2 separate regions of the Homo sapiens genome follow, and region 1 is linked to region 2. The links come from fine-mapping of genetic effects on gene expression. Tissue or cell type: whole blood. Region 2 holds a variant in brackets; the other region holds the start of a gene. All regions are shown on one strand. Distances are from middle to middle.

Region 1 (8,187 bases), 47 kb before region 2:
GTGCTGGGATTACAGGTGTGAAAATAGGCCAGGCGCAGGGGCTCATGTCTGTAGTCCCAGCACTTTGGCAGACTGAGGCAGATGGATTGCTTGAGCCTAGGAGTTTGGGACCAGCCTGGGCAACATGGCGAAACTCCATCTCTACAAAAAATACAAAAATTAGCCGGGTGTGGTGGTACATGACTGTAGTCCCAGCTACTTGGGAGGCTGAGGTGGGAAGATCAATGGAGCTGGGAGTTGGAGGTTGCACTCTAGCCTGGGTGACCTAATGAGACCCTGTCTGGAAGAAAAAAAAAAAAAAACAGAAAAGAAAATACAGTAGAGCTCTAGATCAACCAGAGACTCAGGAGCCTTTCATTTGGGCAATGTTACAGCAATATTTGCCAATATTTTTAGAATTCTAGTTTCATGAGACATTACTAGTGTTGTATTCAAAAACAGAAATACTAATCATGCTTCTTCATTACAAGAATTGTCTTTAGATAGATAGGTAAGAAAAATACCGAACACATTTGCAGGATTGCCACTGTTTGGCAATGTTTCTCTAAGCCCGCCTACCTTAGCCCTCTAGAAAATCACTTGGGAGAAATCCTGTTGCCTGAACCCAGAGATCCAGCTGCCTCCCACAGGCTCAGCGAAACAAACAAATGGCGGAGTGAAGTGATCCCTCTCTTCTTCCTTTAAGAGAGGAAGGGATCTCTGCTTCTCTTATCTACTCCAAAGTCTCATCATACAAAGGTTGTTTATTCCTGCAAAAGTTAAATGACAAATCCACCTAAATTATCCTCCAATGGCCCATACCCTTCAACAGAGAAAGGCCAGTTTTCATATTTAAAGGTGGCCCTCACAGCCATAAAATCAGTGTGGTATTATATTTTTTCATTAATTCAGCATTTACCAAGTAACTTCCGCAGCCAAGAACAGTGAAAAGTGTTAGGGATACCATTTTTAAAAACTTTATCATAATAAAGTATATTATTCTAGTAATACCTTTGATTGATGGCCACATTCTAGACTTTAAGAACCACTTGGGATTATCTCCTTTAATTCCTATATCCACCCTATAAAGTTGGTACTGTTACCATTCTTTATGGATAAAGCATATCCTTTACGGATAAAGCAACTGAGGTTAAGTAGTTTACCCAAGGTCAGCACGTGGTGGAGCTGTAGTCTGAAGCCAGAGCCTGAATTCTTAAAGATTACCATGTTCTTAAGAAGTACACTTTCTACTGAGGTTTGATCTGTAGTATACTAAGATTTCCCAAATTATTTCATGTATTATATCTTATCTCCCAATTAAAATTTGACCTTCTATTTAGGGCAGCACTGTTCAAAAGGATTTTCTGCAATAATGAAAATGTTCTAGTTTGTGCTATCCAAAAGCACAGTCTAGCCATAATTTAAATTTAAACGGCTACAAGTAGCTAAGGCATACAGTACTGGACAACACATGCAAGGAAGAGTTTCATTTCTTCCGATTTATCTATAAAGCCAAGGCTTAGGTAAATCAGTTAATGGAAAGGAACAAGTGAAGAATCTTTAGGAGGAGTTTGTACTCCCTTAGCTGGGGAGCAGAAATCTTTATTATATCAGGACTTTCAGTATAATAAAAATGTTATAAGAAGCATATGATACAGCATGCAGTCCTAGAGGAGTTCATAAAGATGGATTCTTACATTCCTTGCAATATCTTTGGAAGACCTTTTTTTTTTTTTTGAGATGGAGTTTCGCTCTGTCACCAGGCTGGAGTGCAGTGGTGCAATCTCCGCTCGCTGCAACCTCTGCATCCCGGTTTCTAGTGAATCTCCTGCCTCAGCCTCCCAAGTAGCTGGGACTACAGGACCCACCACACCCAGCTAATTTTTTTTTTTTTTTTTGTATTTTTAGTAGAGATGCGGTTTCACCATGTTGGCCAGGATGGTCTCGATCTCTTGACCTCGTGATCCGCCCGCCTCGGCCTCCCAAAGTGCTGGGATTACAAGCGTGAGCCACTGCGCCTGGCCAGAAGACTGACGTTTTATAATTGATGGTCACAACTTTAAAAATTCATACTCAGTTATAGGTTTTTGTCTAATAAAAACATCACTGCTTAATTTATTTACAAAACATGGAGTCCATAGAGAGAAAAACAACAGGGGCCTCTTGATAGTAAAAGGATGAGAAACAGGGAAAACTTGTAAGTCAATGGACACTTCCTTCAGAAACTACATTCAAAACTTAAAAATTTTGTTAAAGAGTAAGCAACTGCCAAATTCTCCTAAGTGACTTCAACGTGTTACTTATACATCAGATATGTACATACATATTCCTATAATCAAGTAATTCTAAGTTTGGGAAAATATCATAAATAATAATAGTTATCTTTTGAAAATAAAGTGGGGCTCTAGATCAACCAGTGTCAGGAAGCAGCCAAGTCACACCCCACTGGGTGCTTCCTGGACAAGCGCAGTGCAGCTCCCACAGGGCCTCACACCCAACCTTCAATTTGCTTAAAAGAACTATCTCAAAAAATCTTAGCTATTTAGTCACAATTTGTCCTTGCCAGGGAACATGTTTTTCTTTTGCCTGATTTTCAATAACCTTAGATTGCAAAATCATAAAAGCACTCATCAAAGAACTGTGAGAGCAGCTCAGCTTCCCTGGAGATCTCAAACCATGTTCCTTTGATACAATGCAATCAGCTCTTTATACTTTAGGAACCTAATTTTCCCTTACTAAATGCTAAACAATTTACAAATAACACAATGGCTACAGAAAAAAAAAATCCAACATCTTTACATTCAAATCCCAAAGATATAAACCTGACGTCTAAATTAATACGTGCTTAGTGCAAAACTGGGCAATTATTCCACATTTGCAAGACAGTATAACATGACCACCTGCTGCTGAAATGCCAAAGCCACCACTGTTAACGCTTTGCTCCGCCTTCCAGAGAGGTTATTACAGCTTAAGCTGCGTCAACAACCCAGAGGAGGCTGCTATCTAGTTTATCTGTGTGGAAGGCCTGTAACACACTGTTAACAGAGTAGTTGCAGGCCCTTCCTTGGGATATTTTTCTGCGTATAAGAGTGAATGAACTCCACGGCCAGATCCTCCTAGTCATGTTGCAGTGCTGGTCATGGGACCGCAGAGGGAACAGCACCCAACTGGGGATGGGGAGCTCACAGGCACAGGCCCCGCAGCTGATGCAAACCTTCCCCCTCCAAGGTTCTCTCGAGTCTCTGCCAAGAGTCGGCTGGAGGGCCCAACTGCTATGTTCTTATTGCTGTAATGACTGCAATTTGGCAGCATCCAGGATGGTGTACCGGGAACGGGAGGGGGAAGGAGATGGTGGGCCCCTCTGTTAAACGCAACGCCAGAAGGGACACAGGATGAATTTATTGTGGCCATCGGTCCTGAGCTGGAAGGAAAGTCAAAGGGCTTTAAAGCTGGGGAAAAGCTCTAACTCCTGCTCTGCTGTCAAAGCCTTACTTCCCACGAAGAGTAGGGGCCAGGCGGGCCAACTGTAAGGGGGAAGCGGCCCGGGGTGAGGTAAGAGGACCCTCCTAGGTGCCGCTGCCAGGCGGCGGTTCGCTGGGGCAGCAAGGCGCCCGCACTCGGGAGGCGCCACAAAGGGCCGAGGCCTGCGGAGGCCGCACGCGCAGCTCTCCGGGGCGGAGCCGCCGGGATCGCGGCAGCGGAGGCTGCAGCAGCCGCGGGTAGCCGGGGTGCCCAGCCTCCCAGCTCGGAGGTCGCGGGGGGCGGGGAGGATGCCGCAACTGCAGTCCGAGCGGCAGAGCCCGGCGCGAGCTCCCAGGCCCCCGCAACCGCTGTGAGGCGCAGCGCGCGCCACTGGCCGGGAGGAGCTAGAGGCGGGCGTCTGCACAGCGTCGCGCCACCCGTGACTGCCCGCCTTCAGCCGGGCCCGGGACCCCGTAGCGGCCCATGCCCTGACGGGGGGCGCAGCTGCGGGGCTGGCGAGGCGTCGCGCGTGGGAAGAGGCCTAAGACACCCCGACTGCGGCGGCTGCGCACACCCGATCCGGACGCGGGGCCCCGCGGGCGCGCGCCTCGGAGCTCCCGCCTCCTCCTCTTGCTCCTCCTCGGCGTACGGTCCTCCCCTGACCCCTCCTTCCACCCGCCGAGAGGATGCGCTCCCCGGCGCCCAGCAGCAGAGGCCACCGCTCCCAGAAATGCATGCGACCGATCCCCTTCTCCCGGACCCCAGGAGCCGGCGCCCCCGCCCTGTAGGTAGGTGGTGAGGCGGGGCCCAGCCCTCGCCGCCGCCCGCCGCTGATGCTGCCGCCGAGAGGCCGCGAGCAGGGTCCAGGACCGGCCAAACTTGCCTCCCGCCGGGGGCTCGGTGGAGCGCTCGGAGGTGTGCTAATGGCGCTGGGCGTAGCCCCCTGTGAACCTGAAAACCTCTGCTTGAGCTCGGGAGGCCGAGCGGGGGCGAAGGAGAGATTGACCCTTCCCCGCCCACCCCTTGGGGGGCTCGTGGGGGTGCGCGCCAGTACGAGAGTGGGGAGGACAGGTTGGCATGGGGCTTATTTGGGGAGAAGACCGTTGGATTTTCAGCAGCTCAGGTGGAAATATGTCACTGTGTTTTTCCGGCTGGATTAGCAGATGCGTTCTTCCCATCTTTCTAGCCAAAACATGTAGACAGGCAAAGGGTTATTAGTGGCATGTAGAAGTCGCTGTGGATTTTTGTGTATTTCAGAGCTAGCTAGTTGGTATATAAAATCGATGGGGCAAACCCTTACCGTCAACACGTTAGGGCCAATTTAGAGAAGGTCCTTCTAGAAGTCAGATTATTCTGGAGATCGATGAGGCTGGGATATTGTTGTGCTGAGTATTTAGGAGCCTCTGCTTACGTGAAGGGATGTGTTTTAAGAGTGGCAACTTTGATACAGGTGTCGGGAGTTGAGATTCTGCTGGAAAGATGTACCGGGTCAGCCAGCAGAGGCAGCCTTGTGCCCAGCCTAACTTCCAACTCGATGTTATGCTCTGTATTTCTCAGAAACTGGTTATGTATTAATGCTTTTTTTCTCCTCTAGGTGTAAAGTTTATACATCAGAGCTTTTGGCAAGATTCCCTCTTCCCAGACTATCATTTTTTATTTTATATTCAGCAATAAGGCTTAAAGTTTTGAAAAATGCATCACTGTAAGCTCCAATTTTATAGTCACTTAGGTATAGAGATTTGGAGAAGTGACTCAGTATAAGCTCAAATAGGACAGAATCTTGAATCTGTTTTTTTTTAAATCCTGTAATCTTCTGCATCTTATGCAGAATAAGTACCCATTAGTTATTTGTTGAATGAATGAACTGTGTTTCAAGCTTTCATCTAAAAACCACAATTTAGAATCACAGAATTGTTCTGTAGCCGGTGAAATTTAATTGAATTTCAAAAATTGCCTCTTTGTATAAATAGGCAAACTCAGTTATTTTAACATTTATATTTCAATTCTGACATCTTTAGGACCATATGCTATCTTTCTGTAATATGTCATCAAGGTTATGAGGTAATTCTCCCCAACTCTTAAGTTCATTTCATGTCTAAGCTTGCAAAATTTCCAGTCTCACTGGTAATCATGCCAACTTCAACTGTGCTCTCAAACACAATTTAAAAAGTAAAAGTCGTGTTTTAAAGAAAATTGTAAGTTACGCCAGAGGAAACAATGATTTGGTTAATAAGTGATGTATTCACTTATTTTAGAGTTGAGTTTTTCAGGTTTGATCTAATTATCATGTCTTTTATCACAGGCAAAAGTAGAAATAAAACATGTAGAAGTGTCTGTGATTCTTAAATGATTCAAAATGTGTGATATAGATACACAATTTAAACTGTTTTCTCCTCGGTATAGAAACACATCAGTTTCCAAATTTGACAGCCAGGGGATTGTGAAATGAGGGTTTGCAAGATACAGTGTCTTCCTGCTTTAAAATGTTATATCATTTTGAAAAAAAAAAAGAAAAACAAGGTTAACTGCATCAAACTTTATTTGCTTTATTTTTACACTATGACATTTTCTGTTTTGATTTCATCTTTTTTCCATCACATGAATTTCATGAGTCAGTGTGAACTTCTTTCAGTCTCTGCTTAACAATATTATCTGGGCATGCTCCCAGGTTTTCTTTCTGACATTTTAATGCATCTTTACCATCTTCACTTCATATTACTCAAATGACTTATTTTTACACAATATGGTAGGCCATACTTTATTACTATTGCTTCTCCAACCTACTTATTTTCTTCCTAGATGGATAAGGAAATAAAACTTTCCTATAAAAGTTAATAAGACTGCAGGAACCAACAGTGGGAGGGAACTTATGAAAAAAATTAATTTGTTATGATTTATTAAAACAAAGCCAAAATTCCCTCCTGTAATAAAGATAATTACATTTTACACTTCTTAAATTTGTAACCCAGGGTATTGAGCAATTAATTTACCTGGCTCTTCCTTGCACACTTTAAGCTTTTCAAAAAAGCCCTCCCCTTTGGTTACAGTAAGCTCTCTTTACCTTGTTACTTATAAGCACTTATTTGTTCATTTTACAAGTAGGAGTTGAGCCTTTAACTGCTCAGTTTAACTGCTATTACTTTGGCTTTGGAATCACAGTCAAATAAAAGCTCTAATCTCAGATTTGAAGAGGTATTTTTCTCTTCTGTGTGTCCTACAACCAAATGCGCAGTGCCTCTGGGATTGGTTGACTCACTTTTGGGTCCTACCTCCTGATCCCCCAGCACTCCGCCCCCACAAGCACCACCAGAATGCAATCCAAGACCTGGATTTCCTCTCTTTATCTTCCTAAAGGCTGTATTTTAGAAACCTCTATTCCTTTCTTGCTAAATGCCATTTACTATTGTTTTTAAAATCCCAGCCCATAATTTTTTGTTTGTTTAAATTCAACAGGATCCACTCAATTCACTTGTGCTAAAATCAGAATTGTTGATTGCAGAAAAAAATATACAGAAGTAAATTTGTATGACCTTGAATTTCAGATATAGTGAATACATAAAGAGTGATTGTTGTCTACTGGTCTCCCCTCAACAGTGATACAAAATGCATTTGTTTCTGTACATGCCAGAGAATATGAATTTTCTGTTGCTAAATTTGATCAGAAGCTTAATTGAGAGAAATGATGTTTACGGGGGGTTGGCTGAACAAAGGCCATGACGTCAACCTATTCCCTTCCAATACTAGCTGTTAGACCAGAAGTCTAGCCAGATCTTCAGAAGCTGTACTTTGGTACCTTGTTTTGCATCCTTAACACCCCCCCATATGCCCACACTGAGGGATTTTATTAATACAGTCAGAGGAAACTTACTATTATGTTACTTTCGAAATGTGGTTATGATCATGGTACTTTCTATAGTTTCTGTTTGAAGACTCATGCAAGAAATTCCATTTAACTTTAAATGCCAAAGAAAAGCTTTACTTACCCTGAACAACTTGTGTGTGTGTGTTTGTGTGTGTTCTTTTCATCATGCAAAATGAGAATCAAATCATTGATTATATTTCCCTTTCTAACTTGGCAACTAGGAAATGAACAAATTTGCAACTCAATTTTAATAATCATATAAAAATTCATAACCTAATATCAATATTTTATCTTTTCCTATGGTCTTGAGCTTCTGTTCTACCTTGTTTTTCTTGATTCTGATGTTTATCTAATTATACTTTTCCATTTGATTGAATTATATTCTTTTAAGATGACTCATATCCTTTGTGGAACAAGGCAGATTATAAAACATAAAACCAAATAAATGAAGCCATTGCACAATTGATCTCTGGACACAGTATGTTTTTGATGAACAAGTTTAATGGGTTACATTAAATGTTTTGAACAAGAATTGCAAATTTAGTACATTTGAACTTAGCCAAATGGAAAACAATGTTACATAGTTTTACAAAACTTTTTTTTAAACTCTTACATTTATATTCACTCATTACTAATTTGAAATTAATAAAGCCATTCAATTTAAGTCAATTATATTTGGAGTACCTGCCTTAAACGCTATATAGGTTGAACAGGAGTTTCAATAGAATAAAGTCATTTTTAGCTGAAGGGCTAGCCTAACTTAGCATAACACTCACCAGAGTGAATCGACAATCTGACCTTCGCGTCAGTGATTCATGTGATTTATCCTTGTTTTAATAAATCAGAGTCTTCTCTGAGCCTCTTTTATTTACCATGAAATTTAA
Region 2 (8,187 bases):
TTGTTTTTGTTTTAATAAAAACAAATATTTGGTTTTAACCATAAAAAGTTCTCATGATACAATTATTTGTGTGTCTGAAATCATCACTAGAGAAAACTAAAGTGACTTTAAAATGTAAATAATACTTATTAAATACATGTGAACATAGTATAATTAATCCCTTGTAGGTAAAAGAAAATTCTTTAAAGTTTGATTAAAAAAACGGAAGATTTTTGTTCATCAGATAATCCCCATATGATCTAGATTCATTTATTTACTTAGTTGTTTATTGTTATAGACATTTAGGGATGGAAAATATCTTAAAAACAACCTAAGCTAACTTCTTGGTAGAGGTGAGCTACTGAGGTCTTAAGAGGTTGTTATTTAACCAGGGTCACCAGACTCTCAGCTGCTGCAAGCCACAGACAGAGGTTTTCTCTTAGCAGAGTTGTGCTTTCATCTCACTCTACTTTAGCAGACCAATGATATCTCAAGCTTGCGTGTTTCTTTTAAGACCTCACTGAAGTCTTGCTGACCTAAAAGGAAGAAGCTGAGGCAAAATTAATGCAGGTAGAGTTGATTTGAGCCAAACTTGAGGATTGTAGCCCAGGAGCATAGATTGAAGATGCCCTGAATATACACTCTGATTAGCAGCAGTTACAAGTTGATTTTTAAAGGCAAAAAAGAGATAGGAAGTGGGCTGATACAAAGTGATGTGCCAGGAATTCTTGTTGGCTTACAGAAATAGCATTGATTAGTGATTGGCTATGCATTAAGTTATAGTGTCTGGTGTGGCATTATTAGATTAATTTATAGCTGCTTGTGGCAATAGCAGGCTGGTTCTGGAGATGAATACATAGCTCCAGCGGGAAGTAAGATGTGATTGCAGTCTCATTTTAGTGTCTCTGCAGCCTGATAATTTAAAAGGATGTATATTTCCCAGATAAAAGTTCTTTTCTTTTCTCAGGCTAAAAGAGGTAGAACACTTATTCCAGAATCTTTAAAATTTCCTGAGTTCCCCAATAATGCAGCCTTGATAGGCACACAATCTAATCTTAAGATACAACAGCTATCCATGTTATTTTCATGTGATAAAGACTGCTAAGTTTCCAAGTATCATCCAAACCCAGCTCAGCCAATCCACATTTTTGTGTTGTTGGCATGGAGCAACCTTACTTACGCAAATTCCTGTAATAGTCAGGAAGCTCTTTCCCCTTTCTAGGTCAAGTAACAGAAAACAGATCAGACTACCTTAGGAGAAAAAAAAAAAGGAATATGGAGTTTCTGGTTCACATAAGTAAAAAGTCCCAGATAAGATTTGACATCAGGAATGCCTGGATTTGGGACTCAAATAATGTCATTATGACTCAGTTTGTCTGTATCTAAATCCTTCCTTTCTTTTAGCTTCCTTTTTCAGGCTTTACTTGATAAATGCTGCTAAGTCAGAATCTCTATTATGCAACAGCAGGCAAAGCAAATGCTTGCTATTAGGTCTCACAAGTCCTGAGACTCACAGGGATTGGACCAACTTAGAGCCGGTGCTAGGTTTTGGAGTAGTGGCTGCCACTGGCAGAGGCAGAGACTCAGTGCTTTGATTGGACAGGCCCACATAAAGATGTCCTTCCTGGAGCTAGGATGAGTCCTACCCAGATCTGGTATTACAGAATAAGGAATAGATTGTAGGGAGGCCATTGAAATCTACTGCAGTTTTCTGTAGTATGTCAGGCACTGTACTAGGCACTGGATTTAAAGCTTTTAAAAAGGAGAATGACATGCTTTGAGTCTCAGTGAGTTTTTAGACACTGTACATGTCACTGTAAATATCATAGTTAATTCCATCATTGAATGGATGATTTGACAAGATAACCTTTAAAGAACTTTCCTACTTGAGATTCTATGATTTACGCTTCTTGGAAACAAAATGGAAAAGGTACAAATTCTTTCATTAGTTTAGGTAATTATATTTTCATCTTAAACTGTTTTAGAATTTTTAATATTGTGACAGCTTTATGTAGAATTCAGAAAACTCAATTTAGTGTTTAATACCACAACTCCACTAAAACAGTATCTGAATATAGAAAAATTAATTTATGAATAAAGAGCACTTTAAAAAATGTATAGTTGTCATGCCAGGGACATAATGGTTGGTAAATATGAATTTTCATTTTTGCTGATGCCATTGTGAAGTTGTAATGTATACATGCGTTAAAATATTGAGCCCCTCTTTTTAAGGGACCCTTTGATGTAGATGATTAAAGATTGAAGATTCTTTGGTCTAATCCATACAAACAGCAATGAAATTTTCCCTGATTTGGCTTTTGTTTGAACTGTAGCTGATATACTCCCTGCAGAGTCTCAGTAATAGTTAAAAACATATTTATTTTCCCCCATCTGATAAAATATTGTTATCATTCCATTTTGGTTTTCTTCAAAACCGCCTTTAACTCAGCCAAAATAAAGTCCAGCTGAGTTTTCTTATGGCTTAATGCAGGAGTATGGAAATCCACAGGAAATTTGGATGACTATTATTCCAACATTACAAATGTTCAAGAGAGTTTTAGAAACTGTATTGAAATTAAAAGGAATGCCTGGGAGCAGAACATTTAAAACCACATAAACAAGTACACATCTATGAGAAATTACCTTGCCTTTTATCAACAACTACTAAAAAATAAAAAAGAACACGTAGTAAAATCAAAGCAAAACTTTCTTGGTAAAGTCTGCTACTGGAGAGGGTGCTTGATAACTTAGTTAATTTCATATTAGGAAGTTGGTTGCACCTGTGTGTGCCAGGTGACATATTAAGTATGAAGAAACATTTATGATAGGAAATTCCAGCTCTCCATTTGGGGCAAAGTGTTCAAGCAGTGGGGAATTGTTAGGTCTTGGGGTAGTTATCTCCTCACAAAATACCTTACATTATTCTTTAAATTAGATAAATGTTGAGTGAAGTTTGATTTCTCTCATTGTATGTGTGTAAAGCGACTTTGCTTGAGAAATTAGCCTAAAAGTCTATGTAACATGGTCTGATTCAAGGTTTATATCAATTTATGAAATTTGACATAGATAACTTATAATTAGCCTGCTTCATCTTTCCCGGATTGAAGTTTGTTTCTCATTCATTCATTCATTCATTCATACATGCTCCACCTTTAAGGCATCTTCAGAAAAGTACACGTGTGTCACCTGTGTATAACCAGCCATGCCTTGGTCCAGTCCCAGGATTAAGTCACATTCAAAGAAATAAGTATATCAGAGAAAATAATTGAAAATAAATATTTACTTCACCTTTCAGAAAACATCCAAGGGGGTAATAAATGCCATATATTTGATAAAACTTTAAAATCCTCTTTCTCCATCTCTCTGACCTTTTACATGTCTCTCAGCTACTTCCCCAAACTCTTTCTCCTTTTTGAAACCCTTCCCATATCCAGTCAGTGTATCTCCTCATGTCCTTACCTTTTCCCCTTCTTTCCTTTTAGGTTTATTTTCTTCTATTTCTTCTCTCACTATATTTCTTTTTCCACTTCTCCCCCTAATTCATTTCCCACACCTGTGTTCATAAGCTCAGAACCAGGAAAAGGAAACAAACCCAGAGTTCCCTTAGGAGGCAGCATGAGGAAGGAGGCTGAGATCATCCATATGCTATTATATTTTCTCATCATTGCACTTATTAAAGAAATTACGATATACTATTTAAAAATGGAAAGTCCAGACCAGGGAACATATAAATTGGCATGAAAAATGGGACAGTAAATTGCATGCTGCTCTTAGTTGTATGACTGATGCAGAACTACTTCATGGTCGGTGTTAAAAAGGGACTCCTTCCCATATTTCTTCCTCTTAATGAGTAGAGCACACGCCAGTCCCTTTGATAACAAAGCCCTTC[C/G]TAGTCCTTAACTCTCTAGGGGCTAAGGAAAAACTTCCCCTTCACCCTCTGAAGCTTCACTGAAAAATGAACTCATAAAAGGCAGATTAATAAGAGAGAAGCATACAATTTTTTTTTAACATTCATGAGGAGAACCCAAGTGTTTGGGAGACCATGAAGTGTTTACCCAAGCCTACAATGGGGTGCAGAAGCTTCTATACCATCTTGAGGTCACGGAAAGAATGGGGCTCAGGGCATGGCCAAAAATCAAGATTACAGTGGCAAGATAGATTATGGGGAAGGAAAGAAGAGGAGGAGGCCTGGCTTGTGAAGGTAGTCTTGTTATACAGATGAAACCTGATAGGTGGCAGCCATCAGAGAGGATAGGTGGTAAATGCTTCTTTCAGATCTTTAAAGGTGTCCGACTCTCAGTTAAATCTTTCCTAGATCAGGACAAGGGAAGACCTGGCTGGATTGATGCAAAACTCCCCCATGAAAGACAGCTTTGCAGGGGTACTTCTGTTTGCAAGCCCTCTGAACAGCCATCTCAAAACATGTCAAAGAAGCATATTCTGGAGTGAAATGCTTTTATTTCCTTCACTAGAGGTGTTCTCTGGTTCTCCAACACCAGTTGAGTGTCCAACAATTCCATTCAATTTTGACACTAACTTCTCAGAGTTAGCCTCAGACTCCACAGATTTAAGAGCTCTGTTGTAAGTCCCAGGTCCCCAGACCACCTGTACTTTTGTCCACCTTGACTGCAAATTTGGGGTTTCCCATGACCGCCTCCTCAGGTTTGAGAGTTCACTAGAACTGCGCAGGGGACTCAGGAAAACACTTTTCTTACACTTAACCAGTTTATTATAAAGGATATAACTCAGGAACAGCCCAATGGAAGAGAGGCAGAGGGCAAGGTATGGGGGACTCAGGGGTGGTAGGTTGGGGGATTCAGGGGTGGTGCCAACAAGCTTCCATGCCCTCTCTGGGTGCACCACCTTCGCAGACGCATAGTGTGTTCATCACCCTGGAAACTTTCAGAACTTCGACATTTAAGGGTTTTTCTTGGAGGTTCATTACCTATGCATGATTGATTAAATCATTAGCCCTTGGTGATTTTTGTTTGTTTGTTTGTTTGTTTTTGAGACAGAGTATCACTCTGTCACCCAGGCTAGAGTGCAGTGGAGCAATCTCAGCTCACTGCAACCTCTGCCTCCCGGGTTCAAGCAATTCTCCTGCCTCAGCCTCCCAAGTAGCTGGGACTGCAGGTGCATGCCACCACGCCTGGATAATTTTTGTATTTTTAGTAGAGATGGGGTTTCACCATTTTGGCTAGGCTGGTCTTGAACTCCTGATTCAAGTAATCAGTCCAACCTCAGCCTCACAAAGTGCTGGGATTACAAGAGTCAGCCACTGCGCGAGGCCTAGGCCTTAGTGATTTAACTCTATCTGCTGTCCCCTCCCCTCTTGAGAAGTGGACTGTCGGGTGGGGCTGAAAGTTCCAACCTTTTAATCCTGGCTGGATCTTTCTGGTGGCTAGACCCCATCTAGAAGCTCTCGAGGCACCTCCCTCCCTCCGCAGCTTTGAGTCATCTCATGAGAATACAAAAGACGCTCTTTATCACTCACGAGATTCCAGTGTTTTAGGAAGTCTGTGCCAGGAACCTGGGGACAAAGACCAAATACAGTAATGTTCCACATAAGCCACTGGCCTCATTTATGATGGTGGTTCCATAAGATTATGATGGGGCTAACAAATTCTATCATCCAGTAACATTGTCACCGTCATAGTGCAACACATTACTCAGTGATGCTGGTGTAAACAAACCCACTGTACTGCCAGCTGTGGAAAAGCATAGTACATACAATTATTTACGGTACATAATACTTGATAATGATGATAAATGACTGTGTTACTGGTTTATGTATTTACTACACTAGTTATTATTATTTTAGAGTGTTTTCTGATTATTAAAAAAAAAAAGCTAAACAGAACAGCCTCAGGCAGGTCTTTCAGGAGGTGTTCCAGAAAAAGGCATTGTTATCATAGGAGAGGATACTTCCCTGTGTGTTATTGCCCCTGAGAACTTCCAGTGGGACAGGATGTGGAGGTGGAAGACAATGACGTTGATGTTCCTGACCCTGTGTAGACCCTCTGTGTTTATGTCTTAGCTTTTGACAAGTTTAAAAAGTAAAACAAAAAAGTTAAAAATTTTAGAAATAGAAAAAAGCTTATAGAATAAGCATATAAAGAAAATATTTTTGTATGCTATACAATGTGTTTATATTTTTAGCTAAATATCAAAAAGTTATTTAAAAACTGATAAAGTAAAAAAGTTATAGTAAGCTAAGGTAGTTTATTATTGAATGAGGGAAAAAATTATATAAATTTAGTGCAGCCTAAGTATACAGTGTTTAGAAAGTCTGCAGTAGAGCACAGTAAGCACATTTACTCACCACTCACTCTCTGACTCCCCAAGAGCAGCAACCATACATGGTAAGGACCCTATACAGGTATATCATTTTTTCTTTTCTTTTTGAGACAGGGTCTTGCTCTGTTGCCCCAGATGGAGTGCAGTGGCATGATCATAGCTCACTGTAGCCTCAAACCTCCCAGGCTCAGGTGGTCCTCCCACCACAGCCTTCTGAGTAGCTGGAACTACTCAGGATGCCACCATGCCTGGCTAAATAAAAAAAAAAGAAAATTGTAGAGACAGGGTCTTTCTAGGCTGGTCTTGAAACTCCTGGGCTCAAGCAGTTCTTCTGCTTTGGCCTCCCAAAGTGCTGGGATTACAGGCTTGAGTCATCGTGCCTGGACACCATTTTTTAATACCATATTTTTATTTTACCTTTTATGGTTTTTTTTGTTTGGTTGGTTTTTTTTTTTTTTTTTTTTTTTTTTTTTTTTTTTTTTTTTTGAGACAGAGTCTCAATCTGTCACCCAGGCTGGAGTGCAGTGGCATGAACTTGGCTCACTGCAACCTCTGCCACCCAGGTTCAAATGATTCTCCTGCCTGAGCCTCCCGAGTAGCTGGGATTACAGGCACCTGCCACTGTGCCCAGCTAATTTTTGTAGTTTTAGTAGAGACAGGATTTCACTTTGTTGGCCAGGCTGGTCTTGAACTCCTGACCTAGAGATCCACTGCCTCGGCTTCCCAAAGTGCTGGGATTACAGGTGTGAGCCACCGCGCCTGGCCTACCTTTTATGTTTTTACACCTGTTTAGATACACAAATACTTACTGGTTACAACTGCCTACAGGATTCAGTACAGTAACATGCTGTACAGTTTTGTAGCCTAGTAGCAATGGGTTCTACCATATAGCCTAGGTGTGTCATAGGCTATTCTATGTGGGTTTGTAGTAAGTATATTCTATAATGTTTGTATAATGACAAAATCACCTAATGACACGTTTCTCAGAATGTATCCCTGTCGTTTAGCAAGGCATGATTATATTTATTTATTTTTTGTTATACCACAACCTGTGGTTGGTTAAAATCAAACTGGTAACTTGAGAGGTGGCCATTGTTGGATTTTTTTTTAAGAGCGTGATCAAGACCGTCTTGTGATTGGATGGTCATTGTCATGGAAATGCACCCTCAGAAAGATGAAAGCAAGGCCAAGATTTTTCTTCAAAATCTATTTTGGGTTTGCCTTTACATGTGAATGAATTATCCAGACTCAGAGTTCTGCACTAACTTTAGAAGGAAAAAAATTTAGAGTAGGTACTACCAGTCTACCACCCCAGAAATTCTGTTTTTGAGCAACATCACTTCCCAAGCAGTAGCCAGCATGTAGCAATTGGAAAAAATACCTCTAAGATGTTGAATGGACATGTTGGATGTAAACCAACTAAATTGAGAGCATCTGCCAAAATAAGTTTTAAAATTTCATACCTGATATTAGATTATTCTTTCTGAAAGTACCTGTAATGACAGAATGATTTATGAGGTCACTTCTAGTTTATGACAATGAAAGTATATTATCATAAAAGGGTACGTATGTCTAAAATTATTCAAAAGCAATGTCAGATTAATATAAGAGTTTATTTTTTAAAGTTGAGAGGAGAGAGAAGTTAAGCTAGAACATATTCTAATTTTATGCTACTTATAAGTGTTTTCTGTCATCAGGCCATTTCTGCTGATCATAAACTATGTTTCCCTTACGAGGCTTTCAGTAGAGTATTAGTTTATATACTAAACTGATTCGTTTCAGGATTCTGTATTTTAGCCCTTATTTCCCTCAATATTTCTACAGTTTAAGTAGTTAACGGGAAAGTCAGTTAAAATTGGATGACAGAGTCGCTGGCATCATTGAGTTTGTGCTTGCTTGAGATTTTTCAAG

Evidence for each region. PIP is the estimated chance that this variant, and not a neighbour inherited with it, causes the effect.
Region 1: NCOA7 starts here. The variant in region 2 is fine-mapped to the expression of NCOA7 in whole blood (INTERVAL, PIP 0.92).

The regions. Positions count from the first base shown.
Region 1 is chr6:125,786,839-125,795,025 of GRCh38, forward strand. It overlaps NCOA7 (nuclear receptor coactivator 7), which reads left to right and starts at 4,122. Exons shown (of 16, transcript NM_181782.5): 1 at 4,122-4,229. RefSeq lists silencers at 2,855-2,954, 3,545-4,384 and enhancers at 3,408-3,908, 3,909-4,409, 4,605-4,704.
Region 2 is chr6:125,834,149-125,842,335 of GRCh38, forward strand. The region is part of intron 2 of NCOA7 (nuclear receptor coactivator 7); the gene reads left to right. Among named protein-coding and RNA genes, the nearest start is that of NCOA7-AS1, 19 kb to the left of the region's middle. The variant C/G (reference allele first, on the strand shown) is at 3,869.